Linked DNA regions of Homo sapiens. The protein of the gene in region 1 interacts with the protein of each later gene in a pairwise test. Each region holds a gene or a part of one and is shown on either strand. Other genes may lie near its edges.

The links.
Region 2: the proteins of MMD (region 1) and SFXN1 interact in binary tests that used the Homo sapiens proteins (3 or more experiments, as listed by UniProt).
Region 3: the proteins of MMD (region 1) and CYP4F2 interact in binary tests that used the Homo sapiens proteins (3 or more experiments, as listed by UniProt).

The regions. Positions count from the first base shown.
Region 1 is NC_000017.11:55,397,679-55,405,166, reverse strand, and holds part of MMD (monocyte to macrophage differentiation factor), read left to right. Parts: intron 1-619; coding exon of another isoform or gene 620-716; exon of another isoform or gene 717-853; intron 854-1,298; coding exon 1,299-1,400; intron 1,401-3,628; coding exon 3,629-3,698; intron 3,699-7,488. UniProt on the Homo sapiens protein: Involved in the dynamics of lysosomal membranes associated with microglial activation following brain lesion.
Region 2 is NC_000005.10:175,481,560-175,488,559, reverse strand, and holds part of SFXN1 (sideroflexin-1), read right to left. Parts: intron 1-7,000. UniProt on the Homo sapiens protein: Amino acid transporter importing serine, an essential substrate of the mitochondrial branch of the one-carbon pathway, into mitochondria.
Region 3 is NC_000019.10:15,887,775-15,895,262, reverse strand, and holds part of CYP4F2 (cytochrome P450 4F2 precursor), read left to right. Parts: intron 1-2,680; coding exon 2,681-2,734; intron 2,735-2,826; coding exon 2,827-2,954; intron 2,955-4,829; coding exon 4,830-4,951; intron 4,952-5,569; coding exon 5,570-5,840; intron 5,841-7,488. UniProt on the Homo sapiens protein: A cytochrome P450 monooxygenase involved in the metabolism of various endogenous substrates, including fatty acids, eicosanoids and vitamins.

The DNA.
Region 1 (7,488 bases):
CCAACCCCTGACCTCAGGTGATCCACCCATGTCAGCTTCCTAAAGTGCTGGGATTACAGGTGTGAGCCACCACACCTGGCCTCATTTATTTTATTTATTTTTTTTGAGACAGAGTCTTGTTCTGTCACCCAGGCTGGAGTGCAGTGGTGCGATCTCAGCTCACTGCAACCTCTACCTCCTGGGTTCAAGCGATTCTCCTGCCTCAGCCTCCCTAGTAGCTGGAATTACAGGTGCCCACCACCATGCCCAGCTAACTTTTGTATTTTTAGTAGAGACTGGGTTCCACCATGTTGGCCAGGCTGGTCTTGAACTCCTGACCTGAAGTGATCTGCCTGCCTTGGCCTCCCAAAGTTCTGGGATTACAGGTGTGAGCCACTGTTCCTGAACTTCTCATGTATTCTTAATATGAAATTAGTACAAATGAATTTGCAGCATTTTAAAATTCAAACCTCACAACAGTCCATGGTTAAATTCTACCAAAATGTCTTCCATAATACATGTTAGGAATAATTCTTCTCATACTCTCTCTTGGCAGAGAGACTGATAATGGAGACACACTTGGTTTGTGTATTAGGTATCCACTGTGGGTATCTGATCCTGCGTCAAAATTTTGTTCCAGGTTCTTCTCATTAAGGTTTGTAAGTAATCTGCTCCCAAATACATGGTCAGAAATTAAAGGGCAAGCAGTTTTGACCTCATTCTGCCTAATAGGGTAAGTTAGGCGTCATAAGAGTGCTGGGACTCCCTTCAACTTGTCTGCTTTTAGCTGGTTCTATTTTTAAACCATGTTGAAACTAATTCTTTTTTTTTTTTAGGTGGAGTCTTGCTCTGTCGCCCAGACTGGAGTGCAGTGGTGCAATCTCAGCTCACTGCAACCTCTGCCTCCCGGGCTCAAGCAATTCTCCTGCCTCAGCCTCCCGAGCAACTTGGATTACAGGCACATGCCACCACACCTGGCTAATTTTTGTATTTTTAGTAGAGATGGGGTTTCACCATGTTGGCCAGGCTGATCTTGAACTCCTGACCTCAAGTGATCCGTCTGCCTCGGCCTCCCAAAGTGCTGGGATTACAGATGTGAGCCACCACTCCCGGCCTAATTCTGAGTCTTAAAGGTCGACTGACAAATTTGTTTTTGAGTTGCTTAATTTTACCTAAATTGCCCAAATGCCTGCTTGATGTGTTGAGTGTGTTTTCTTCCTGCTCTTATCCTAAGACTTTCTCAGTTTTCAATGACACAGGTTCTATGAATTCCCTTCATTTATCACTTCTGTTCTTTGTTGTCACGTTTACATTTTTAGGTTAAATCTTCGTGAACTTGGACCCCTGGCATCTCATATGCGTTGGTTTATCTGGCTCATGGCAGCTGGAGGAACCATTTATGTATTTCTCTACCATGAAAAGTAAGAGAAAATAATTTACATTTGATAGTTTTAAAATTGACTGCCTAAATATTATCTGCACTGCAATACAATTTACTTTTATTTGTACTTCAAAACAGTAGAAATACATATATAGAATATGTTATTTTTAATAAATCTTCAAAACCATTTGGTATTCATTATTAGTGGAAAGATTGCTGTGGAAAAACAAGAGTGGTACAGGTTTGGTATAATGTAGTTGAGGGGACATGGTAACCAGCCCCTTTGGAGTCCATCAGACTTCATTTCTATAGCATGAGGCAAATTGGCCTTATTCTCTGTGATTCAGTCATCACGTGAGAAAACCAGCCACTTGTCAAGGTGTCTATGAAGATTGGAGAGAATAGATATTAAGTGCTCAGTACAATATACCTAAATAAGGGCCTAGAGGGTATTCCAAAAAGGGTATCTTGAGAAAAAGGATGTTGGGAAGGACATTGGAACTCTTAATATCCTATCCCTAGGGCACAGCTTTTTAGCCAGTTATTCATAGCTGATAGTCCTAATTATTGAGCCATATAAAAACAAAAGCTAATTGAAATTTAGTATCTTTGCTCTAGAGGAGACCTTCAAGGTCCCCTATTCCAACTTCATGATTAAAAAGTCAGAACATTTAGGATATGCATCAAATTAGTGACTCATCTGGAAATTAGGACCCAAACATCCAAGTTCTGATTCCATTGCTCTTTTTATTACCCTGTATGTTTGAATTTGAGAAACACACAACCAGGAAATCTTTGTCATTGGGTTTATTTACAGTTCATTAAATTCTGTATCTATTGTGCTTGGCAGAATGGCTCTCAGAATTGAACATAATTTGTGTTTATCAGAAAATACTAAATTGTTTTCCCCTTTCAGAAGAAGAAAATGGTAGTTTTCACTAACTTCTTTTTGTCTCTGAAATTCACTTAAATACCTTTTTGACCATAATTAGCAATGCTGAGTAGTGTTATATATTATAGCATATTTAAGTCCAAGGGAATGGTTTGCTTCTTGGACTCAAATCTCTTATTTATATCCTTGGATAAAATAGGAAGTCAAGAAAGGCAACTATCTTTTCTCCTTTTCCCGGCCTTCTGGTGTAAACAAAACCCATAAACCCATTCTTCCCCTATCTGATTATTTCATGGTAGGCTTTGAGTATAAAACACGATGAATGAGGTATGAGTCACCCTTGGCCATTCAGTTTGGCAGACATTAGGGAGTACCTAAATTGTATCAGGTACTGTTCTAGGATTTACAGATCAAAACATAATTAATCTTGGTTCCTGCCTTTGAGGAGCTTATCGTCTGGTTTGATTAGGCTGAAATGTAATTTGAATTTCAATACAATGTATTTCTTAGGGTTTTTAGATCTTTTGTAGTCTAACGTGATGAGCCTTAAAATTACAGTTTGTGCAGGTGCAAAATAAAGAGACAAACAAAATTACACGTCCTTTCCTTAGGGCTTGCTGTTCCTTTTTGCTGATAAACTAGGCTCCAGGCTGCATCTCCATTCATCTTCAGAATTTCACTTCTAGCTCTGGATTGGAATGGTAATGAAAGCAGACACTCTAGGATCAGAAGAGGAAATATTTTACAAGGTGGAGTGGGTTAAACGATAACTACTTTTGGCAGAAAACATTTTCTTTTTTTTTTCTTTTCTTTTTTTTTTTTTTTTTGAGACTGAGTCTCGCTCTGTCACCCAGACTGGATGGAGTGCAGTGGTGCGATCTCGGCTCACTGCAAGCCCCGCCTCCCGGGTTCACGCCATTCGGGTTCACGCCATTCTCCTGCCTCATCTCCCCGAGTAGCTGGGACTACAGGCGCTCGCCACGCCCAGCTAATTTTTTGTATTTTTAGTAGGGACGGGTTTCACCGTGTTAATCAGGATGGTCTCGATCTCCTGACCTCGTGATCCGCCCGCCTCGGCTTCCCAAAGTGCTGGGATTACAGGCATGAGCCACCGTGCCCGGCCGGCAGAAAACATTTTCTAGGTGGCATGTGGGATTTGATGCCTTTTCAACCCTGAGAGAAATGCTAGTTCCTTGTTACTCAGCTACTGTGTTTTAGTTAGAGGCCTAGTGGTTGCCTACTGAGAAATAAAGTTTTATTTGAATAGTTAAGAGTTTACATTTCTTTCTCAAAAGTAAAAAGGAAAGGCTGGTATGTAAATTGTTAGGTGTTATAGAAATTTATAAGTTAAATTAACTGCATTTTTGTTCCTGCAGATATAAGGTGGTTGAACTCTTTTTCTATCTCACAATGGGATTCTCTCCAGCCTTGGTGGTGACATCAATGGTAAGACATGGCTTCAGAATTTTAGTTATTTTCTTTTAAGCTGCTGGAACTTAACATGATTATGGATATGATATGTAGCTTTTCTTTATAAAGTTATGTCCATTAAATAGAGGCTCAAAAGAAAAAGAACTTATAAATAATGAAGTGTTTAGCTTGGCATGGTGGCATGTGCCTGTGGTCCCAGCTACATGGGAGGCTGAGGCAGGAGGATTGCTTGAGCCCAGGAGGTTGAGGCTGTGGTGAGCTGTGTTCATGCCCTACAGCCTGAGGAACAGAGCGAGACCCTGTCTCAAAAAAATAATAAAAATAATGAAGTGTGCCAGCAACTCGTAAGCTTGCACTAGGTACCGTGTACAGTTTGGGAAAGCTATAAATTCAGGTATGTTTCTGTCTTTATGGTACTTTCCTGAATCAGAACCAGAATAGGTTCAGAGAGGTATTTTTCAAATCCCTTTACTCTTACTTTTCCTTTCCCTTGCTTTTAAGTCGTAAGTCAAGCACTTTTTTTGTTTGTTTGTTCTGTTTTCTAAGGCAAGCACTTTTTTTTTTCTTTTACTTTGCTTGAAAATATCTTTTGGGGATTTTCGTGGGTAAAGTGTAACATTACCTGTAATAGGCAGTTGCATGTATATATTTGAATTCCCTTTCAAATTGAATTACTGTTGAGAAGTCTGTGTGTGTCTGTCTTTTTGAAATGAAAATATATTATTACGACTTCATGGTTCCATCCACCTGGTTACCAGCCCTTTAGCTTATATATTGCAGTATCTTAGGCTCTAGGCACTATATTAACTAAGGAGGTCCCAAGGTGTTTCGTTTGAACCCTTCTGAGCCTACATTGTTCAGAAGAACTGTACTTAGGATTTCACTCCTAATCTCATAGGCACATTGTAAGAACCTTTTTTTTTTTTTCTTTTTTTTGAGACAAAGTCTTGCTCTGTTGCCCAGCTGGAGTGCAGTAGAGCGATCTTGGCTCACTGCAACCTCCGCCTCCTGAGTTCAAGTGATTCTCCCACCTCAGCCTCCTAAGTAGCTGAGATTACAGATGCGGGCTGCAACCCTTGGCTAATTTTTTGTATTTTTAGTAGAGATGGGGTTTCACCAAGTTGGCTAGTCTGTTCTTGAACTCCTGAGCTCAGGTGATCCACCTGCCTCGGCCTCCCAAAGTGCTGAGATTATATGCGTAAGCCATCACGCCTGGCTGTAAGAACATAATTCTGTGATAGTTTTTTTCCTGGTCACAAAAACACCTATAAAAGGTTTAAAAGTTTCAAATCTGGTTCTGTTTTTTCAGGGGATGTCTTCATGAGAATATAACAAAATATATTTCTTTGAGATACGAGGTTTATGATGGCTTTAATAATTACCTAGCACCCAAAATACATATAGATGGTAAAAGCAACAGGGAATGGTAAGGAGGAGGAGTTAAAGGACAGAAATGAGAAAATCAGCCTTGAAGGCCATATAGTTAGAAGGCATTTCAGGACACCCCAAGCAATATAAGCAAGGTTTGTGCAGCTTAATAGAGTAGAATTTCAAGCAAATTCCCTCTGGGTATCATAAGAGCAGGTTTATCCAGTAATTTTACTAGCCTAAATTTGAAATTGACATTTCCATAAGTGGTACAATAGCAGGTGACTAATGTTTGTGATAATCAAGCAGGATGATCCCCCACACTGCCTTCATAGAACTTAGAGTCAAGCAGGCAAATGCAGTTCCTATTAAAGAAAAAGAGATCATGAAATTTGATAAAATATTTGATGGGGGAAAGTTCAGGCTGCTATGCGAACATGACAGAAGTACCAGAGGAAGTGATATTTCAGCTGATTTGGAAAAACATGTAGAAGCTGAGAGATGGTAGGGGTGAGGCAAGTGTTACAGGTAGAGAATACAGCATGAAGGAAGCCCAGAGAAGGGGGAAGCACCAGCATCTTTGGAGAAATGAAAATAGCTCATTGTTTGTAACATAAAATACATGTACCAGCTTGAGTTATGTACATATGCATGGTGGGGGCAGGTATGCAGGTAGCACAAGTCTTGTAATAAAGCTGGAGAGCTAGACAAGAGTCCAGATCACAAAGGACCTCAAAAGCCACTAACACAGTAACAGAATGAATGAAAATGCGAATCTTTGGTTCTGGCCAGAATCATGGGTCTCAGACTTACCCTTCTGCCATAAAGAACTGTAAAACTAGAAAAAGAATAAAGGCAACTGTTTTTTTGGCTCTGAACCCAAACAGTACAGGACTGTGATCCTTGAAGGAAGAGAAACCAAGAAAATGAGCTTTGAATTCACCCCAGTAGTTTCCCTGGAGACACTTTCCAAACAGCAACAAAAGGAGGTAAAGCCCAGAGAACAGCAGCCTGGGTGGAGGAAACAGAAATTACAGTTCAGGTTACTGACATGGCTGCAGTTTGTGGGGCAGGGTATGGAAGAGGAGGAAGCCGCTCAGGGAGGATGCTTCAGAAATCCATGAAGCAGTTTCCGTGAGTCGTTGTCCAGATATCAAGCTGAATGTTGTACGGGCCAAAACTCTGCAAGCTCCAGTTGCAAATAACTCTTAGAAGGCTGGAAGATAAATGGAAATTCCGGACAGTTCCCAGTGCTGAAAGACATTGAAGTTCCAACCAAGCAGAGTTCAGAGATGGTGCTGGACATCCCAGGCACTCAGCTGACCCTGCCAAGGCCACAGCTTAGGAGTAGAGCTACTCTATCCCTAGAGGGAGGGCTACTCTAGAACTGCCATAACAAGGCCCAGACAAACCTTGAAAGGATAAAATTGATCCTCCAGTAAATAAACCGCCTAACAGAACAAAACTCAACAATTTTTAAAGGAATACAACAGAATCTTTACTGTAACAACTTAGCATGTACCATAAGTAAATATTATCAGAAATAAATCAATAATAATGTAATAAAATAAATAATAAATATATAATAAATATTACCAGATGGGCAAGAAACTGGAAAGTGACACATACCTAAGGGAAAACAGATCAATAGACACAGATCAAAAGACGGGAGAGATACTGAGATTCACACACAGGGAGTTTAAAACAGATGAGGAATCTCAGAAAATACCTGGAGACTATGAAGAAGAATCCACATGGAGATTCTAGATCCGAAAACTGTGATGTCTTAAGAAAAAAAAATTATTGGAGGGATTTAATAACAGATTGGATATTGCAGAAGCAAAGTTCAGTGAACTTGAAGCCAGGTCTGTAGAAACTATACAAACTGAAGCATGAGAGAAAAGAGTGATTTAAAAATGAACAAAAGAAGAAAGAAATTGGGGCAGTTTTTTGTTTTGGGTTTTCTGTTTTACAGTTTTTCTTTTCTTTTTTTTTTTTTTTTTTGAAGAAATAATAGTTACAACTTTTCCAAATTTGATGAAAAATATCAACCTAGAGATCCACAAAGCACGAGGAGGCCTGAGCAGTATAAACACAAAGAAAACTACACTAAGACACATTAAAGTCAAATTACTAAAAAACAAAGGCAAAGACAAGACCTTAAAATCAGCCAGAGAGAGAAAAAAGAGCAAGGAGAGAAGATGACCACTGACATTTTATCAGAATTCATGGGAGCAGGAATACAATGTAATGGCACATTTAAAATGCTGAAAGGGTCCGGGTGCTGTGGCTCACGCATGTAATCCCAGCACGTTGGAGGCTGAGGCGGGTGGATCATGTGAAGTCAGGAGTTCAAGACCAGCCTGGCCAACATGGTGAAACCCTGTCTCTACTAAAAATACAAAAATTAGCTGAATGTGATGGCAGAACTCCTGTA
Region 2 (7,000 bases), on another chromosome or scaffold:
TGGAAGGCCGAGGCGGGCGGATCACCTGAGGTCAGGAGTTCGAGACCAGCCTCAACATGGAGAAACCCTGTCTCTACTAAAAATACAAAATTAGTCAGGCGTGGTGGTGCATGCATGTAATCCCAGCTACTCGGGAGGCTGAGGCAGGAGAGTGGCTTGAACCTGGGAGGCGGAGATGGCGGTGAGCCGAGATCGTGCCATTGCACTCCAGCCTGGGCAACAAGAGCGAAACTCCGTCTCAAAAAAAAAAAAAAGAAATGCATCTGGTGTCTTCAAAGAATAGCAAGAAGGCATGAGCTGGGGCGGAGTGAGGAAGTGGGAGATGGGAGATGAGGAGGTAAGAGATGTAATGGCTCAGGTTGGAGTCAGATGATGTGGGTTATGGAGCCACTGTAAGGCCTTTGCATTTCACTCTGCAACAAATGGGAGTCACTGGAAGGTTCTGATGAGAGGACCGAAATGAACGGACGCACAATTTAAAAGGATCTCTCTGGCTGCTGTGTGGAGAACAGACAGTGGGGAGATAAGAGCGGACACAGGAGGAACAGTGACAAGGTTACTGCAGAGATCCAGACAGAGCTGGGGGGCAGCGCAGGTGGCAAGAGGTACTGGAATTCTGGGTATTTCTTCAATGGTGCCAGCAGGATTTCTTGACATCTTAGATGTGGGATGTGAGAGAAAGAAAAAGCATGGTTCCTGAGGTATTTAGTTGGAAAAACTGGAGGTGGAGAGGGCCGAGGGAGAAGACAGGAAGCTCAGATTTGCACGGAGTAAGCGTGAGGCACCCAGGAGGCAGCAAGTGGAGATGTCCAGCGGGCAGCAGAGTAAGTAGGTCTAAGTTCAGGGGAGAAGTGTAATCTGGAGATTATCCGTGGGAGTTGTCAGACAGAGATTATATTTAAAGTCATGCGATGTGATGAGATCACCAGGGAAGTGAAGGTAAATAAAGAGATCCAAGGACTGTGGTGTGAAGAGGTCAGAAAGGACTGAAGGCACAGCAAAGTGGGCTGGGGAGTGACTGGTGGGTGCAAAACCAGGAGAGAGTGGCATCCTGAAAGATGAGAGGTAAATCTATTGGTAGCCCGACTGGCCAAAAGGAAGACACCTTGGTAGCCGGTCACTTCCATTTCTGGATAGTGAAGCGGGAGGAGGTGGATTTAACAGCAATGATGGTGGTAGCAAGAGGAACAACACGTTAAACCTCCCCTCCTTGGGAAACCGTTTATTCCTGCAAAGCTGCTAGTGCAGACTGATGGTTCTGCACCAATGGAACACATCAAAATCACCTGGAGAGCTTCTTATAAAGACAAATACTATCCTCCTTCTAGAGGTTCTGATCCAGGAGGTCCAGCATAAGGCTGGGCGTGGGATTCAGCATGGCTCTGGGTGTGGACTTCATGCTGGACGGACACCAGGCTGTGGCTGTACATGAGGCCGTGAGCCATTTCCTTCCCTGCACCCTTCTTTACCCTCCTGTGCCTGCCCTCGGGCCTAGGTGATCTGTGATGTTCCCCGGTGAAGATCTGATATGGGTTTTTCTCAGAAAATTGAATACCAAGGAATCTCTCTTCCCTTTTAACTATAATTCTCACTATCACTATTTTTCCTTCATGCTTAACATAAATAATGAAAACAAAAATTAATATGTAGCTTTTATAGAATTCTAGTTCCTAATAACAAACTATCCCTAATTTGTTAAATATAAGGCAACCTTTAGGGCAAGCTGCCGCCATCACGGTCTCATTTTAGAATTGGTTACTTTATTATTTATTTATTTATTTTGAGACAGGGTCTCACTCTGTCACCCAGGCTGGAGTGCAGTGGTGCAATCATAGCTCACTGCAGCCTTGACGTCCTGGGCTCAGGTGATCCTCCCACCTCAGCCTCCCGAGCAGCTAGGACTACAGGCGTCTGCCACCATGTCCAGCTAGTTTCTGTTTTTTTAAATTTTTGTACTGGTTGTAGAGACAGGGTTTCACTCTATTGCCCAGGCTGGTCTCGAACTCCCGGGCTCAAGTGATCTGCCCACCCTGGCCTCCAAAATGCTGGGATTACAGGTGTGATTCCCTGCACCCAGCCAAAAATATGGTTACTCTATAAAATATAAGTATTATCATGTATAAGAACTGGATAGTCTGAAAAATGATTTATCCAATGCGCTTATTATGCGGAAGCTGAGGTCCAGAGGGGAAATAACTTGCCCAGGTTGCATGGCAGATGCTGGCAGCAGAAACAAGTCCGGGAGAACTCAAAGCAGGAGCAGCCTCCAGGGCACTGGCCAGCTTTCCACTCACCACTCTTTTCTAGCCATTTTTCTTGAAGTATGACACCAATTAATGTCTGCAGAGAAATGATATCTTGGAGGCCCCCCCACTTTTTTCCTTTAAATAAAAACTTGACCTTTACACTATGAAGTTCTATACTACAATAACCTTAAGGTTACTCTAAGTACAAGTGATCAAGAATGCTGTGGAGGCCTCACAAAAGATGTCTTCCTTTGTAGGCGAGGAAAAAGGAGAGAGAGGGAGAGGGGAACCCTAACATCTTAAGAATTTCCATTATATACAAGGAATTGGGCTAGATGCTGGCCTAAGCTTGCCACATCAGAGAATATTCTACCTCATTTCTCACGACAATAGTGTGATTCAGACATCCTATGCACATTCCGCAGACGGAAGAATCAGATTCTGGGATGTCATTCAAAGCCACCCCATCTTTCCAGCAAGGGAAGCAGCAGGAGTTCTTGACGCCAACTACTTATCTGCACACTCCAGTTAAACCCACCGAAATCCTGGCACTGGAAGCGCCCACTGCATGTTACCCATGATGGGGAGAACAATGGCTGCCAAAGATGTCTCATTCTAATCCCCAGAAGCTGTGAGAAGGTCTAATAAAAAATGCTGCTATCTTTAGTATCTATTTATTGAGCACCTACTACTGTGAATATGTTACCTCACATGGTGCAGGGACTTTGCTGATATGATTAAGTTAAGGATCTTGAGAGATGCAGGCATGATCCTGGAATATTTGGTTGGCCCAATGTCATCACAAGGCTCCCTATAAGAGATGGAAGGAGGCAGAAGAGGCAGAGCCAGAGAAACAGATGTGGGAACAAGCAGAGGTTGGAGTGATGCTGGGCTGTGAGCTGCAGCCCCTAGCAGCTGGAAAGGGCAGGGAAAGGGGCTCTGCCCTAGAGCCTCCAGAAGGAAGGCCCACTTGTTCTAGACTTCTGACCTCCAGAACTCTAAGATAATATATCTGTGTTGCTTTAAGCTACTCAAATATGTAGTAATTTGTTATAACAGCAATAGGAAATGAATACAACACTGTTTCCTCTACTTAAAAGGGATTTCAAGTTGTACTATAGTGGCATAAGAAATACCAACTGGATTTGATAATCTGTGTTCCTCTGCACCCAGAATTAAAAATCAAACAAACAAACATACAGACTAATCAGGAATGCCACATTAGCATTCTCACAAAAACAGCTGATCTCAAATCAGATAACATTTTAATTATTAACCGTGATGCCATGTTTCAATTAGGCAAGACTTCTTTCACGCATGAACTGACTTCCACCTTCAAGCTCAGGAGCAGCCTGCACTCCAGGTAAATTGATCCATTTTTAAAAAACAGGAGCCCCACTTAAAAAACAAACAAACATCAAAACTTATTTCCTATTCACATTAAAGTCAACAGCACTGAGCGTGGTGGTGCGCACCTGTAATCCTGGCTACTTGGGAGACTGAGGTGGAAGGACTGCTTGAACCTAGGAGGTTGGAGACCACACTGGGCAACATAGTAAAACCCGTCTCTAAAAATCAATGGGGTCTAGCAAGCGCGCTGACACGGAGCGCTCCTTACGCACGGGGCCTGGGCTGAGGAGGATGCGCCGAGACGCGCCCTGTGCTGGCTCCATTTTGTGTCTAGAGTCTATTCAGGGAGCGAGATGCTGGTATCCTTAAGGCCTTGGCCGCTATGTGGGGATCCCCAGGGTGCACCCTTTTCCACCCGCAGGGGTCAGGGCTGGCCGGGCCACTTGGTTGGTCCGCAGCATTCCGGCGTGCACCTGCTGGCCCCGGGCAAGGCAGAGATGCGCTGAGGGCATGTGCCCCGCACACCTGGTACTGACGGGTCAGGAGGGCCGGGTTGTGGGGCGGGACTGCTGCGGGCACCATCGTGGGGAGGGAACGAGGTCATGGGGTGGGGGTGATTGTGCAGGAATGGCCTTTGTTTTTCCATGGTCTGGCTTATGCAGCCATCCATCTGGCAAATTATGGCCCCTGGGCTTGTCTGGAAGGTTGAAACTGGGTAAAGATCAAACATCTCGTTACAGAGGTGTCTTGAACATCAATCACAGTCTTTCATGACCTAGGATAGGGACAGTGCTAGGACAGAGGCTTCTCGACTCCGGATTTCTGCAGACTGCGCTGGAGGAAGTCATGCTGCACAGCCTTGTGCTGACACTGGGAACAGGAATAATCATGAAACCACAGATACTTCAAAAGAAAGTTTTGGAGAACAAGATGTTTGCGTTCCCACTGCAGATGCGGCAAGGATCATGAAGAATGTCCCTCAGAGGGACACACTACACGGGACGCCAAAGAATGTGTTCCAGAGTGTGTGGGTTCATCAGCTTCACGGCACCTGAAGCAAGTGAAAGATGCCAGGGAGAGTGCGGAGACAGTCAGTGGGGAGGGTGCTCTCTTTGCCCTGTTCACCTGAGGCTTTGAGAGTTATGCAGAAGCGCTGGGGTGGTGCCTTCAGGCACTCAGAGAGGCTAGGAGACAGGGGAGCAGGCCCCAGTCCACCAGAGACACAGAGGGACCTAGGGAAGCTGTGGAAGAGGCGCTTACTGAGCAGTTATTAGCTGGCTTCAGGACTGCAGAAAGGCAGCAGCAAAATGTTATGGTTTACACAGCGGCACACTGGCAGGTTTCTCATGTCCAGCAAGCTCAGTTTTCACGAGCTGAAGAAATGGTGCAATGGGGTGTGGAGGGAAGAGAAAGGGGCTAGAACAGACGCGCTAGAAGAAAATGATTGGTGACAGACGGTCTCTGTGTATTGCACTAGCTGTAATGTGGCTTCCTGGTGCTCGGACAACTGAGGTGTTAATTCTAAGAATCTTTTTCATGAATGATTTTAAAGAAATTTTTGGATTTTAACGGTATTAAGAAATTTTGGTGGGGTATGAGAAAAAAGTGGGACTTAAAAAAATTCTGTGGTTGGCTGATGCCACTTATGCTAAGAAGAAAAATGACTTTGAGGTTTTATCACATAAAGACATTCTCACAATGATGTCGGCTACCTGGAACTGTTAATAATTATGACATTATACTGCATTTGAGTGAACAGATTATTTTAGAGATGATATATGTTGAAAAATTATTTTACCCCTAAAAAGAGACGGAAATAATTTCATAGAGAAATTAAAAACTGTTTAAATTCAATCTTTTAACTAAGGTTTTGAGTAAATATAGTTTCATGGAGCCTCATCCCAATAGATTTCTCAAAGTCTTTTTATTTATTCATTCACCAACAAAATTAACTTACGCCTTCCATATCCACTGAAGGCCTCTTATGTACTCAACACTGGCTTGGTCCTGGGTTTGGAAAGACCGAACACACAGCTGTTTTTTTCTGGCTGGTTTTTGCTGATGGAGGCCCCCCGCCCTGTGGTGTAATTTCCCGAGCATCTACCCTGATAACCTATGGAATGAGAACCGGATTTAAGCAAATATAATCTAGATTTCAGTCCTGATTCTATCATTTCCTTTCTAGACATGTGACTGGGTGAATTACTTTACACCTCTGAGCCTCAATTCTGTCATCTATAAAACACAGGTAAGAGTTGGCTCATAGAGTTGGTAGGATCAGCAAACTGAAGAGTATAAGAGGCCTTTATTAATCTTTATTAAGTTACCAAACAAAAGTGGGATCATTATTAACAAGCTGGTTTTCCACGAGTGGAAGCTCCTGTCCTCACTGGCCACAGTCCCGTGCATAAATGCAGCTCCTGGGGCCAGGAATGGCTCCTGAGCTTCCTGAAGATCATCAGAAACATGTAAGAAAAAGAATTTATCTCCAAGATAAATTTTATTTCAAATTTTTAGCTGCATGCTAAGAAAATGCTTAACTGCTGGAGAAAAAAAGAATTTTCCAAAATTTTGTAGAAAACAAGTTAGCAGGGAATGTGCTTTATGAGGAATTAGTACAAAGACCTTTAATCTTGGCTAAAGAGTACCAATGATAACTGCGTTATTAAGCTGGAAAGCTGTTGGTCAAAACTACCGTATTTTGAAAGAGTTATGAAAGGGTCTGATTGCCCAGTTTGTTTCACTAGGGCCAGGCAGGTGTGAGACAGCCGGTCAGTCACTGCTGTCCACTGTCCAGGGGACATGACGGAACACCCAGACACTAGGCTTTCCATGCATTGTTAGATTGCTAACTCCTTATGACAGCCCTCCAAGATCTTTTCCCCTGTTTTATAGAGCCGCTCGGAGAAATTTAGTACCATGCCCAAGATGACACAGCCTTCACAGTTCTGTCTGACTTTGAAACTCAATTCTGACCCTTGGAGGCCAGAGAAGATGTGTCTGCCAAGGACAATCACACTAACTCAAGGAGCCTAAAAACCAAATTCCCTGATTTCTGTTGGGCTGGTCATCTGCATATAGTGGCCTTTTTTATGGGCATGGCCACACAGGAGATCGAATTATAGATCAGAGAGTTGAATTCTGTGCAAAGCATTAGATTCATTCTATTTCCACTCAGCAATGGATTTGTGTTGCATATGCTTCCCTGTTCCAGGATAGTTCTGCATGGAGACGTTGGGCCTGCCTAGCATCAGGAAGACATGGAGAATCAAGGCCTCCTGCCTTTCCCACTGCCATGTTCTCCCCTCCCATGCAGATCCCACTATTCTACTAACTTTAAAACACCCATGTGCCAGGCGCGGTGGCTCACACCTGTAATCCCAGCACTTTGGGAGGCTGAGGTG
Region 3 (7,488 bases), on another chromosome or scaffold:
TCCTGGAGGAACCCCCAACTTTAAGGAGATGGACCTGGATAGAGATATCCCCAACTTCATGGGATCAGGAAAGGGCCAGAGGGAGATGGATCACAGCCCAGGGAAGAACAAGGTCTCTGCTGGGGCAGGCTGGAAGGCTTCCTAGAGGAGGAGTTACTGGAGCTGTGTCTGGAACAATGAGTAGGAATGTTTGAAAGGAGAGTGCAGGGTGAGGCAATTGGACATCGTTAGTATTCAAGGCCCCTTGCCAGGCCTAGCATCACCTTGCCTGTCCCAAAGCCTAGAACAATGAGGAGGACTTGTGGCTGGTGGGGGATCTGGGCTGCTACTTCCATGATGTCCACCTCTGGTGGGTCAATTCCCTTTACCCCATCCTATAGCTTGTCTGCCCTAAGTTCGTTGCTCTCCTGCTGCAGGTCCCGGGGATCTCCAAGAGGAGACTCCACCCCAGCTTGGGTCCCTTTCCTTGACCCCTGTGCTTCCCATCGTTGGACGGGCGAGGCTGAGCAGGGGGAATGGGCAGCATCCTACAGAGACCATGGCTCTGACCTCAAAATGCTGAGTGACTCTGGGCTGGTACCCAGCTGTCTCTGGTTATTGAAGTCTCTTTCAGTTGTGAGTGGTGGAAACCCAACCTGGTGTGGTCTAAGCAAAGAAAGATAATCTATTGACTTTAAAGTCCAGGGAGGGTGGCCTTCAGGCATGGCTGGATCCAGGTCTCACACAAGGTCACTGGAAATCTGTCTTTCTCTCTTGGCTTTAGCTTTCTCCATGTCGCTTTTCCTATCAAGGTGGCCTTTTCCTCATGATGTCAACGATGAGTCCCAGAAGCTCAGTTCTTATGGGAAAGGCCACCTTTCCCCTAGAGTTCCCAGAAATGGCCCATGGTTTACTTCTCCTGGCCTGGATCACAGGACCAATTTTTCACCCAATCCCTGTGTCTCTGATTGCCCAGTCTTGGTAGGCCTGGGTCTTCCAGAGCTACTGTTTTGGGGGCACAAAGAAGTTTGTTGGTTAAGGATTCAGGCCATGGGTGCAGACAGACCTAGTCTTAGGCCTCAGGCTTGCCGTGGTCTGGGACTGTGGGCAAGTGACTTTATTGTTCAGAGCCTCAGGCTCTTCATCTGGAAAATGGGATGAATGAGAGCCCAGGGAACATGGTGTGTGGATCCACATGGGGAAAGACCTTTTCTGTCTGTGTAACTGAAGGACTGGAGAGTCCTGCATGGAGGATGTGAGGAGGCAGGGGGTGCTCAGCACTGACAGGAGGATGAGATGCTGCTTGAAATTCTCAGGGAGAGGGCTTCGACCTCTTCCCTGCAGATCCTTCTCTCTCACAGCCTAGGAGAGCATGAATTGGGTCCTGTGTGTTTTTCTCCAGATTCACAGCTCAGAAGAAGGTCTCCTATACACACAAAGCCTGGCGTGCACCTTTGGGGATATGGGCTGCTGGTGGGTGGGGCCCTGGCAGGCAGTCATCCACATCTTTCTCCCCACGTGCATCAAGCCTGTGCTCTTTGCTCCAGGTAGACATCGCACTGGCCAAGCTTTGCCCACAGCTGGGGTTGCTGTGCTGCCTCCAGCTGAACACGTGACCGATGTGCAGACAGGAGGGGCTGTGGTGGAGATGCCATTGCCTCCATCGCCCCTGGACTTCCACCTGTCTAACCTCTGTTGCTGTTTGCTCATGTCTGGGGCGTGTCTCTACAATGGCTGTTATATGGCCAGGTCTGCCTTGTATATTTACACCTGGGTCCTGGTTACACCTGAAATATGTTATACCTGGTTACATCTGGTATATAATTCCAACTGGGGTCATGTAGAGCTGGTCAAGTTTGGGGCTTATCTGTGGCCAAGGACATTTGGGGCATGTGAGGGCCTGTTTGGTTCTTGTCTCAGGTGCTGTTTGACACTGCCGTTTTCTCCTGGTGGTCCAAACATCTGGGCGTTGTGTGAGGTCTGGGGGTTGTGTGAGGTCTGGGACCCAGGGTCCCTATGTGAACTGTCTGAGACATTATTTGAGTCTTGTCTGAGGCATGTGTTATAGTATATTTGGGTCATGCCTGAGGAACAGTCTGGTTCACATGTTGGCTATGTCTGTGACATTAAAGGTACCATATTTATATTCAACCCAGAGCCTGTATGTGGAACACGCTTTTAAGATCATGTTAGACCATCTCATGTGCATGTTAGAGCACACCATCTCATGTTAGGAATTGTCATGTATTTTGTGGCCATGTCAGGACATGTGAACACATGTCAGGGTCATGTCTCATGTCCAGGTCCATGTCAGAAGATGCCATATCAGAAGATGTCAGAGAGTGCTGGGACAGACAGGGTGTCCTAGGTCCTTGTGAAGCATTCTGTAGAATGCTGAGCTGTGCTCAGGGGTTGCGGAACATGTTGGATCGTGTAGGAGGCATGTCAAGGCATGCTGGAACCCTGACATAGCTCCTACACGCCATGTTAGGCAGTGTCATTGCTGTACTGTGCTGCTGTAGCCTGGTCTGGTCTTCCCTCCCCTCCCCATCCTCCCTTCTTCCTCTGCCCTTGGCCCTCTTCCTGCTATGTGGGGCTCAGAGTGGGAGAAGTGCAAACCTCTTGCTGGGAGCCTCCACCCACCCCCAAAGTCCCTCTTTCACCTGCCTCCATGGCCCCTGATTGTCCTCATTTATGTCAGCTGCCATTGCACCAAAGGACAAGTTCTTCTACAGCTTCCTGGAGCCCTGGCTGGGTGAGTATCTGCAGGTGAACAGGGTTGGGAAAAACGTTGGGGGGCCAGGGGAGGGAGAGGTCCTTGCCCATGGCCCTTGGCTGCCCTGCTAGGGGATGGGCTCCTGCTGAGTGCTGGTGACAAGTGGAGCCGCCACCGTCGGATGCTGACGCCTGCCTTCCATTTCAACATCCTGAAGCCCTATATGAAGATTTTCAATGAGAGTGTGAACATCATGCACGTGAGTTATTTGAAGCCAAGGTCCCACTTGCAGCCTTGGGGTGAAAGGACAACAGAGAGATCTAGTCTGGAGTTTTGGCTCTGCTGGGTGCCATTGGGCCATTGCTCTTTCTCACTGAGCCTTGGTTTCCTCATCTGTAAAATGGGGATAATAATCCCTACTTAAAAGATGGTCAGAGTAATGTAATGGAGTCACGTCTCTGGTGCATAGCAGGTGCCCAGAAGGTGTCTGTTTCTATGTTTCCATCACCAAAGCCCTGTAAACACAAGAGGGTCATGACAACAATTTCATAGTAGCTGTTGCTGATAAGAAACCACCTGAAAACTCATTGGTTTAAACCAATAAGTGTTTATGTTTGCTAATAAGTCTTTGGGACAGTTGGCAGGTTCTTCTGTATATGGAAGGGACCACTCATGGTACATGAGCAGCTGGGGGTCAGGTAGGCAGCCTTGCAGGTGTTGACTGAATTCTGCCACATGTTTGGGTTTTGGCTGGGACATGTTTGGGTTCTCTCACGTGTCTAGGTTTGGCCTCATCTGGGACCCCTGGATGTTCCTCCCTATGATTGTCTCCTTCCAGAAGGCGCGCCATGGTTCACAATGCAGGCAGGGTTCCAAGGAGTAAGACAAGGCTTAGCTTCGTTAGTTATTAACTCATCATTTTCACCACATTGTATTTTGACATCGAAAGCCAAAAGTCCAACACAGAATCAAAGGCAGGGGGATAAAATAGGCTCTGTCTATTAATGGGAGTTGCTGAAAAATCACATTGCAAAGGGTGTGGATATGGCAGGAAGGGAAGAATTGTGGCAAAGGTTTTGCGAAGTATCTAGGATTTTTTTTTTAACTTGCAAATTGATAAGTTAGCTTGTTACTGTTTCATAAATTCTTCCAGAAGGACGAGAGACTCCTGGGTCAGAGACAAAGGATAGTTTACTACTCATGACACAGACAGCAGCATGTGTTTCTTGTTAGATTGCCTTTTTTCCCTCCAAGCTTCCCAAATCCCATGGGCTGACACAGGTGGGCTTCTATAAGTGCCTGCTGACATCATATATTGCATTACAGAAGAGGAGCTTTAAGCTTAGGGAATCTGCTTTTATAGAAAGCAAAAGCAACATGTCTAGAGGGAGTCTTTACCTTATCCCTCAAAGTTTTTCTTCGCAAACACAACTCTGAGAAATTTTCCATGTTAAGGACATCAGTGTCTTGCATTCATGACATGCCCAGAAAGAATGCTCAGGACTCAACGAAGGACTACCTCCCCCAAAACAGGGATATTTTTGAAATCAATTTATAACAATGCAGACGGGGAAATCCAACATTTATTGATCACATACCATATGCCAGAAACAATGCCATGTGCCCATTCCATGATACGAGTATGTATTGTCTAATTTGATTTTAACAGCTCTGCGAAGGAGAGATTATGTATTTTTGCCCCATGGTAGATGATGAAACTGCAGGTCTGAGAGATTAGGGAACTAACCCAAGTTCACCCAGCTAATAAGTGAGCATGGCGAGGTGGAGCAGAGTTTCTAATGTGAATTATATGGCTCCAAAGCACATCATCTTAACTGTTTCTGAAGATTTGACAGGCAGGATATAGGGGAGGGTAATGAGTTGACTAATGGCACACAGAGCACAGGGGACAGAGCTGGAACTTGAACCTAGTTCTCCTAACTCCCAATCTTGGGTCTTCATCTCTTAATAGTAACAGCTTTTGTTTGCACCATAACCTGGTGCTCCCTGGGGAGGGGTCCCTGGGGAGAAGATGAAGAGGCTTATTCTGGGGAGCCCATCTTGGCAGTTGGGGTTGGAGAGGTGCTCAAGGGAGCAAGGAGCCTGCCCCAGCTCTGTCCCCTTCTCTGGCTAGGCCAAGTGGCAGCTCCTGGCCTCAGAGGGTAGTGCCTGTTTGGATATGTTTGAGCACATCAGCCTCATGACCTTGGACAGTCTACAGAAATGTGTCTTCAGCTTTGACAGCCATTGTCAGGAGTAAGTTCTTGCCCAGGATCTGGGATCTTGGGCTGTGGACCCAAAGTGGGTAGGTGGGAGAGGGAGGACTAAGCAGGGAAACCAGACAAACCTTCCTGGAGGAGTTTTGTTATACCTGATCATTGAAGGACTGGTATGAACTTTATCTTGAGGTTTCCAGGGAGCCATTGAAGGGGTTTGAACTGGTGGGTGTGGTCAGAGCTCTGTAGGGGACTGACTAATGTAGCACTAAATGGAGTTAACACTGATGCAAAGAGGCTAGGGTGAAAGCTAGACCATGGACCAGTTGCAGGAGGATAAAGTCTGAGCTTTGTGGACAGTTTCAAGGAGACGGGTCAGGACTGTATACTGGGAGGGAAAGAGAGAATAGGAGAATAATGTGCAAGCTATGCTCTGGGTGCCTAGCGGCATGGAGGCATCTCACAGAGATGGGATGCAGGGAGAGAAGAGAGCTTGGAGAATCAATCTCATGCTGATCCCCACCCTGTATCTGTGGGGTCATCTGTTCCTGGATACTCTGTTTACTGATAGGAGGTAGATCCTGGCTGCTGGTGGGAGGTGATCCTGGGGCTTCAGGTATATTAAATTGTTGCCTCCCTTTCTGCCCTTATCCTGCAGGAAACCCAGTGAATATATTGCCGCCATCTTGGAGCTCAGTGCCCTTGTATCAAAAAGACACCATGAGATCCTCCTGCATATTGACTTCCTGTATTATCTCACCCCTGATGGGCAGCGTTTCCGCAGGGCCTGCCGCCTGGTGCACGACTTCACAGATGCCGTCATCCAGGAGCGGCGCCGCACTCTCCCTAGCCAGGGTGTTGATGACTTCCTCCAAGCCAAGGCCAAATCCAAGACTTTGGACTTCATTGATGTACTCCTGCTGAGCAAGGTGGGCCTCTCTGGGATCTGAATTCAAGAAGTAGAAGGGAGCTTCATGTGAAATGTCAGATGAAAGGATTTGAACTTGATTAAGAGGGCACTAGGGAGCCATGGAAGGTGATTGAGGAAGGGAGGGACAGGTCAGAGATAGGTTTTAGAGATGACTGTGGAGTGCACCTAGCAGGGAGCTGCTAGGCTTGAAACTGACAAGTCTGAGAGTTTGCTCTATTTACAAACTAATGAGTTAATTGTCCACATTTAACTCCATACATCTACATCTATATCTATGTCTGGTCTATGTTTATGTTTTTGCCTATGTCTTTCTATATCTTTGTCTCTGTTTGAGTTTGTGTCTCTATGACTGTGACTATGTGTATGTCTTTGTCTTTGTAATTGGCCATATCTGTATGTCTTTTTATCTATGTCTTCATCTTTGTCTATGTCTACGCCTTTGTCCTGTCTTTTCTATGTCTCTGTTTATGTCTTTGTCTCTGTCTATATTTTCATCCATGTCTATGTGTATGTGTATATCTGTGTCTGCGTCTATGCCTTTGTCTTTTTTCTGTGTTTGTGTCTTTGTCTCAGTGTATGTCTATGTCCATGTTTTTTGTCTGTGTCTATGACTATGTCTTCGTCTATGGCTATGTCTATGTCAATGCTATGTCTATATCTTTGTCTGTGCCTGTGCTTGTGTCTGTTTCTGTCTATGTCTATGTTTATGTCTATCAGTAGTTGTGTCTGAGTGTGTGTCATGTCTATGTTTATGTGTATTTTTGTGTCTGTGTTTCTAAGTCTGTGACTTAGTCTATGTATGTGTGCGTCTGTGTCTATATCTGTGTCTATGTCTATGTTTATGTGTACTTGTGTGTCTGTGTTTCTAAGTCTGTGACTTTGTCTATGTGCGTGTGTGTCTGTGTCTATGTCTATGTGTATTTGTATTTGTGTGTCTGTGTTTCTAAGTCTGTGACTTCATCTATGTGTGTGCGTCTGTATCTATATCTGTGTCTATGTCTATGTTTATGTGTACTTGTGTGTCTGTGTTTCTAAGTTTGTGACTTTGTCTATGTGCGTGTGTGTCTGTGTCTATGTCTATGTTTATGTGTATTTGTGTGTCTGTGTTTCTAAGTCTGTGACTTCATCTATGTGTGTGCGTCTGTGTCTATCTGTGTCTATGTTTATGTGTATTTGTATTTGTGTGCCTGTGTTTCTAAGTCTGTGACTTTGTCTATGTGTGTGTGTCTATGTCTATGTTTGTTTATGTGTATTTGTGTGTCTGTGTTTCTAAATCTGTGACTTCATCTATGTGTGTTTGTGTCTGTGTCTATGTCTGTGTTTATGTGTATTTGTGTGTCCATGTTTCTAAGTCTGTGACAGTCTATGTGTGTGTGTGTCTGTGTCTATATCTATATCTGTGTCTATGTCTATGTTTACGTGTATTTGTGTGTCTGTGTTTCTAAGTCTGTGACTTTGTCTATGTGTGTGTGTGTCTGTGTCTATATCTGTGTCTATGTCTAGGTTTATGTGTATTTGTGTGCCTGTGTTTCTAAGTCTGTGACTTAGTCTATGTGTGCGTGTGTCTGTGTCTATGTCTATGTTTATGTGTGTTTGTGTTTCTAAGTCTGTGATTTTGTGTATGTGTGTGTATGTCTGTGTCTATA